Homo sapiens: one gene and its partner. The protein of the gene in region 2 interacts with the protein of the main gene of each other region in a biochemical or structural test. Each region holds a gene or a part of one and is shown on either strand. Other genes may lie near its edges.

What was found. Proteins that work in one complex are often made in the same cells at the same time.
Region 1: the proteins of OXSR1 (region 2) and WNK2 interact in a test that uses a peptide from one of them, tested with the Homo sapiens proteins (one large-scale study listed by BioGRID and IntAct).

What each region holds. Positions count from the first base shown.
Region 1 is NC_000009.12:93,313,139-93,316,638, forward strand, and holds part of WNK2 (serine/threonine-protein kinase WNK2), read left to right. Parts: intron 1-3,500. UniProt on the Homo sapiens protein: Serine/threonine-protein kinase component of the WNK2-SPAK/OSR1 kinase cascade, which plays an important role in the regulation of electrolyte homeostasis, cell signaling, survival, and proliferation.
Region 2 is NC_000003.12:38,168,537-38,172,036, forward strand, and holds part of OXSR1 (serine/threonine-protein kinase OSR1), read left to right. Parts: intron 1-3,500. UniProt on the Homo sapiens protein: Effector serine/threonine-protein kinase component of the WNK-SPAK/OSR1 kinase cascade, which is involved in various processes, such as ion transport, response to hypertonic stress and blood pressure.

The DNA.
Region 1 (3,500 bases), on a different chromosome or scaffold from region 2:
TTCTTCGAGCACATTTAAGACAGTCGGTTTAAAGCCTTTGTTTACTAAGTCCAATGTCTAGGCTTCCTTGGGCATGTTTTTGTCAGTTAAATATTTTCCTTTGAATGAGTCATACCTTCCTGTTTTATTTGCTTTAGATTTTAGGTCACTAAATTTTTCTTTGTGTCTAAACTGCTGTTAAACCTATCCATTCAGTTTTTAATTTGGGTTATTGTGTTTTTCAGTTGAATTTTTTTTTAACCGTATCTCCTGTATCTTTAAAAAAAAAAAAAAGTTTCTGACTCTTTACCAAAATTCTCTATCTTGTATCTCCTTCACATAATATTTTTTAGTTTTTGTTTGCTCTTTGTCCTAGTTTTTCTTTATATTGCCTTGTCTTTTCTTGTGACTTTTTAAATATTCTGTGTAGGACATTGTAGTTGAAATTGTATTTGCAAAAAGAATTTGAGGTCTAGTAATAGGTTTCTCATTATTGTTTAATTTGCCTTAGAGCAAATTAAACAATTTTCATATTCTTATATTTTCATATTCTTATCAGCCGTCTTTTAAAAAGTGCCTGGTCAAGGATAGTGACCATTTAAAAGTTGATTTGTTTAACTTTTTATTATTGATTTGTGGGAGTTCATCATATATCTTTTGTCATATACAAGGGGGCTTCCAAAAGTTCACAGAAAAATGGAATTAAAAGATAAAAGTAAGAAATATATGGCTGGCCATGGTAGCTCACACCTGTAATCCCAGCACTTAGGGAGGCTGAGGCAGGTGGATTGATTGAGTCCAGGAGTTCAAGACCAGCCTTTGCAATATGGCAAAACCTCATCTCTACAAAAAATATAAAAATTAGCTGGGCTGCTGGGTGCAGTGGCTCACGCTTGTAATCCCAGCACTTTGGGAGGCTGAGGCGGGTGGATCACCTGAGGTCAGGAGTTCAAGACTAGCCTGGCCAACATGGTGAAACCCTGTCTCTACTAAAAGTACAAAAAAAAAAAAAAAATTAGCCCAGCATGGTGGTGGGCTTCTGTAATCCCAGCTACTCAGGAGGCTGAGGCAGGAGAATCGCTTGAACCTGGGAGGCAGAGGTTGCAGTGAGCCGAGATTGTGCCATTGCACTCCAGCCTGGGCGACAAGAGCAAAAGTCCGTCTCAAATAAAAATAAAAAAACAGCTGGGCATGGTGGTGCATACCTATAGTTACAGCTACTAAGGAGGCTGAGGTGAGAGGATCGCTTGAGCCCAGGAGGTCAAGGCTGCAGTGAGCCGAGATAGTGCCACTGCACTCCAGCCTGGCGACAGAGCAAGACCCTGTCTGAAAAAAAAAAAACAGCTGGGCATGGTGGCACATACCTATAGTTACAGCTACTAAAGAAGAAATACACGCTTTTTTCTTAACACAAGCACCATCAAGTTCAAGACACTTATAAGCAATGATGCCAGCCATTTATAAGCAATGATGCCAGCCATTTATAAGCAATGATGCCAGCCATTTAGTCCCTCCCTAAAGACCTAATGGTCCTGGGAATTTAACCATGGCCATGGAGTCTTTTTTACATTATTAATTGACAAAAAATGGGTGCCCTTTACAGATGTTTCAAAATTAGGAAGCAAAAAGAAGTCAGAGGGAGCCAAATCAGGACTGTAGGGTAGATGCCTGATGATTTCCCATGGAAACTCTTGCAAAATCACCCTTCTTTGGTGAGAGGAACGAGCAGGAGCATTGTCGTGATGGAGATGGACTCTCTGGGGAGGCTTTCCCGGGGGGGGTTTTGCTGAAGCTTTGGCTAACATTCCCTAAACATTCTCATACTAAGCAGATGTTACATTCCTTGTTACCCCTCCAGAAAGTCAGCAAGCAGAATGCCTTAAGCATCCCAAAAGCTGTTGCCACAATGTGCTCTTGACTGGCCCACTTTTGCTCTGATGGGACCACTTCCAGCCCTCAGCACCATTGCCTTGACTGCACTTGGTCTTCAGGACCATACCAGGAAAGCCACGTTTCATGTCGCTATAGTTCAAAGAGAGCTTCAGGATCTCCATCCCACTTGTTCAAAGTTACCACTGACAGCTCTGCTCTTCTCTGCGCCTGATGTGGGCGCAATGGGTTTGGCACCCATTGAGTGGAAAGTCTGCTCAACTTTCATTTTTCTGTCAGAATTGTGTAAGCTCAACCTACTGAGCTGTCTGTGGTGTTGGCCACTATTTCTGCTGTTAACCACCCGTCCTCTGCACTTACGGCTCAGACCAGATGAGTGTTTTCCTCACAAAGTGATGCGGATGGCCTGCCGCTGTGGGCTCCGTCTTCAGCATGGTCTCATCCCTTCTTAAAACAAGTCAACCATTTGTAAACTGCTATTTTCTTTGGGGACATGGACCCTGTAAACTTTTCAGAAAGCATCAGTGATCTCACCATTCTTCCACCCAAGCTTCACCATACATGTGATGTTGGTTCTTGCTTGGCAGAATTCACGTTATTGTGATAGGGGCTCTTTTCAAACTGAAGTCTTCTCCTTCTTAGTGCCTCAGACTACCTCCTCTTCAGACATGCTGCAATAAGTTAGTACAAGTTTATTTGGGTACAAAGATTTTTTTTGAAAGTCATGCATAGTTTTTTCATGGTATGTCTTTTCCATGAACTTTTTGAAGACCCCTTGTGTGTGTGTGTGTGTGTGTGTGTGTGTGTGTGTGTGTGTATATAATGGATATAGTCTACCAATCTGTGGTTTGTGTTTTCACTTTCTTAATGGTGAACATGAAATGGTAAAAATTTTAATTTTTTTTTTCCTAAAAGCTTTGCAGCTTTAGCTATTGCTTTAGATCCCATGAGCCATCTCAAATGAACTCTTGAGTATATTTTGATGCAGAGGTAAATCTGTTTTTTTCCTCTCTGCATATCTGATCGTTCCAGCCCCTTCCTCTCCATATTGAATTGCACTGAATTGAGCAGACATTCGTCAAGTGGTCGTCTGTGTGTAGGTCCATTTCTGAATTTGCTATTTTGTTTGCTTTAGCAATTCCCTTATCATTGTGGCAACACCACACTCTCTTCATGACTGAAGTTTTCTAGGAAGTTTAATCTTTGCTCAGGAAAGACTTTCAGTGTTGATCTTCTTCAAGAAGTTCTTGATTTTTTTCAGGTCGTTAATATTTCCATATGTTTTAGGAACAGCCTGTCACTTTCTGCAGGCTAGCCCACTGGGATTTCGGCTGGGAGTGGATTCAGTCTGTTGATTATCTGGGTGAGGTTTGACATATGAACAACATGAGCGTTCCTGTGAATGTAGTGTCCGTTTACTGGCATCTTTTTTGTTTCTCTGCAGTGTAAAGATGTTATACCTCTTTCATTAAATTTATCCCTAGGTAGCTGATGTTTTGGAATGCTATTATAAATGTTATTTTTCTTTAAATCTCCTTTTCCAGCTTCCTGTTGCTAGAATATAAAACTATGGTTGACTTTCGTACCCCATATCCTGCAATTGTGCTAAATTTGCTATTAGTTCTAGAAAT
Region 2 (3,500 bases):
AAGATTTACCTGATTAAAATGTACAATTCAATAATCTTTTAGTAAATTTACATAATTGTTCAGTCATCACCACAATCCAATTTTAGAACATTTCCATCATTCCAGAAAGATGCCTCATGTCCATTTGCAGTTACTCCCTGTTCCCACCCCCAGCCCCAGGCAATCACAAATATACTTTCTGTCTCTATAGATTTGTCCTTTCTGGACATTTTATGTAAATGTAATCATATAATATGTGGTCCTTTGTGTTTGGCTTCTTTTACTTTCCATAATGCTTTTTGAGGTTCATCCATCTGCCATGTAGTACATGGTTCCTTTTTATTGGATACCAGTTAATGGGCATTGGATTGTTTCTGCTTTTTGGCTGTTTGGAACAAGGCTGCTTTGAGTATTCACATCAAGTCACCCCATGAATATGTTTCATTTTTCTTGGATGTATACCCAGGAGTGGAATTGCTGGGTTATATCACAAATTCAACTGTTTAAGAAACTGCCAAACTGATTTTCAAAGTAACTGTACCATTTTATGTTCCTACTAGTAATTATAAGAGTTCTTGTTTCTCTAAATTTGTTGTCTTTTTGCGTGTAACCATCCTAGTGACTATGAAGTGGTATCTCATTGTGGTTTTGATTTGCATTGCCCTAATGACTAATGATGATGAACATCCTTTCATGTCCTTATTTATTAGACTTTCATGGATCTTCTTTGGTGAAATATCTATTCAAATCTTTTGTCCACTTGGACTGCCCATTGGGTTGTTTTTTTTTTTGTTTGTTTGTTTGTTTTGAGATGGAGTCTTGCTCTGTTGCCCAGGCTGGGGTGCAGTGGTGCCATCTCGGCTCACTGCAACCTCTGTCTCTTGAGTTCAAGCAACTCTCCTGCCTCAGCCTCCTGAGTAGCTGGGGTTATAGGTGCCTGCCACCATGCCCAGCTAATTTTTGTGTTTTTAGTAATGATGGGGTTTCACCATATTGGGCAGGCTGGTCTCAAACTCCTGACCTCAGGTGATCCGCCTGCTTGGCCTCCCAAAGTGCTGGGATTACAGGGGTGAGCCACTGCGCCTGGCTGTTCGTTTTTTTTTTGAGTTATAGAAGTGTGTGTATGTGTGTTTGTATGTGTATTCATTCTGGGTATGCGTCGTTCATCTGATATATGATTTAATTTAAATATTTTCCTGTCTGTAGTTTTTTTTTTCTTCTCATTTTCTTTCTTTTTTTTTGAGACAGTCTTACTCTGTCACCTAGGGTGGAGTGCAGTGTCATGATCAGGGCTCACTCCACCTCCTGGGCTCAAGTGATCCTCCCACCCCTGCCTCCCAGGTAGCTGGGACTACAGGTACATGCCACCACGTTTGGCTAATTTTTGTGTTTTTTGTAGAAACTGGGTTTCGCCACATTTCCCAGGATGGTCTCAAATTCCTGATCGCTCAAGCGATCTGCCTGCCTCAGCCTTCCAGAGTGCTAGGATTACAGGCGTGAGCCACTGCGCTTAGCCTTCTTTAATTTTATTATTATTATTTTTTTTTGAGTTGGAGTCTTACTCTGTCGCCCAGGCTGGAGTGCAGTGGCATGATCTTGGCTCACTGCAACCTCCGCTTCCTGGGTTCAAGCAATTCTCCTGTCTCAGCCTCCCAAGTAGGTGGGATTACACATGCGTGCCACCACACCAGGCTAAGTTTTTGTATTTTTAGTAGAGACTGGGTTTCACCATGTTGGCCAGGCTGGTCTCGAACTCCTTACCTCAGATGATCTGCCTGCCTCGGCCTCCCAAAGTGTTGGGGTTACAGGTGTGAGCCCCCGCGCCTGGCCTCTTTCATTTTCTTAATGGAGTCTTTTAAAGTACAAAAGTTTTGAATTTTGATGTTTATCATTTTTTTCTTTTATTGATTTTGCTTTTGGTGTTGTATCTAAGAAATCTTTACTAACCCAACATTGTGAAGATTTTTTTTTCCTGTTTTTTTTTAAGTGTTAGTTTTAGCTCTTGCATTTAAGCCTCTGATACATACTGAGTTAATTTTTGTGTATGGTGTGAAGTAAGGTGAACCACCTTGTTTTACAGTTGAAGACACAGAGACAGAAAGGTAACATGACTGCTTAAAGCCATGTAGCTAATTAGAGGCAGAGCCAATACTGGCATCTGTGTCTCCTGTAGCCTAATTCGGGATCCTTGTTCCTGTATCTACATTGATTCGTTCTTGGATATAAACTGGAAGATGGGGGTCATTGTCTCACAGATTAAGGGAATGATCTCCCCTGCTTTTTTCTGAGAAGGGTCTCACTCTGTCACCCAGGCTGGAATGTAATCACAGCTCACTGTCTCACTGTATGAACTCCTGGCTCGAGTGATCCTCTTGCCTCGTCCTCCCCAGTAGCTGGACTACAGGCATGTGCCACCATGCCCGCCTCATTGTTTTATTTTTTTGTAGAGACAGGGTCTCATATGTTGTCCAGGCTGGTCTCTACTTCTGGGCTCAAGTGATCCTCCCACCTTAGCCTCCTAAAGTGTTGGGGTTTACAGGTATGAAGCACTGTGCCTGGCCAAGGGAAGTATCTATCCTTAGAGTGAAAAAAATCTGATGGATGTTCCACACCTGTCACGTCCTTCCAGTCTGCTCCTGACAGCCTCTCTCCATTTTCCCAACAGGGAGAAAAAAAATTTTTTTTCTTTGAGCTACAGCCTAGTATAAGTAGCAAGTTTCAGTAAAGCATTGTATTCTTATTCTAACTTTGCTTCCATACCAAAATGTTTGTTACATAGTATTTTATAATAAGCTATAGTCTTCAAAATGAATCTTTATGATTTCAGATTACACTCAACTTTTTCAGGAAACACATGATTAAAATCTAGAAAAAAGGGTTTGGGATCATTTAAATTTTGTTTTCAAAGGATTGTATTCTAGAGAAATCAGTGTAATGGTGTCATCTCCATCAAAACACGTACATTTATTTGAACTGTAACATGTTTATTTGAACTGTAATTTTTTTCACATTTGCTTCTCAGCAGTATACTATTTATGGGATTGTTTCTCACATTCTGTTTTGTTCTTCGTCTTTCTGGTAAAATCCTACAGAGAACAGAATCTCCTCTTAGGAACATATTAAAAGCCTATAGATTGAAAATTCAAAGGACTTTTTTTTTTTTTTAAAGAATTGTATCACCTTAAGCATGCTTTGGCAAGATTTGAAGTTCTTTAAGTATGATTATGTGTAAAAGATGTTAGTATCATTCTCACAATTAATCATTGATCTTTCAGTATTTTTGAGCCCTTAGTCTTAGATTAGAATTTCTGAGCATGTGTTATACTGTATTTGGCATGTGTTGAAGCAGCTGTAAAAATTTGGGCTTTGGGGTTAGACTGACCCAGATTCAAATCCTGACATTGCCTCTTACTAGTTATGTGATCTTAGACAAATTATATGATTAGTTTCCGTGTCAGCTTTTTGTCTGTATAGTGGGGAGAATAGTACCTATGTCACTGGGGCCGTTATATAGATTGAGT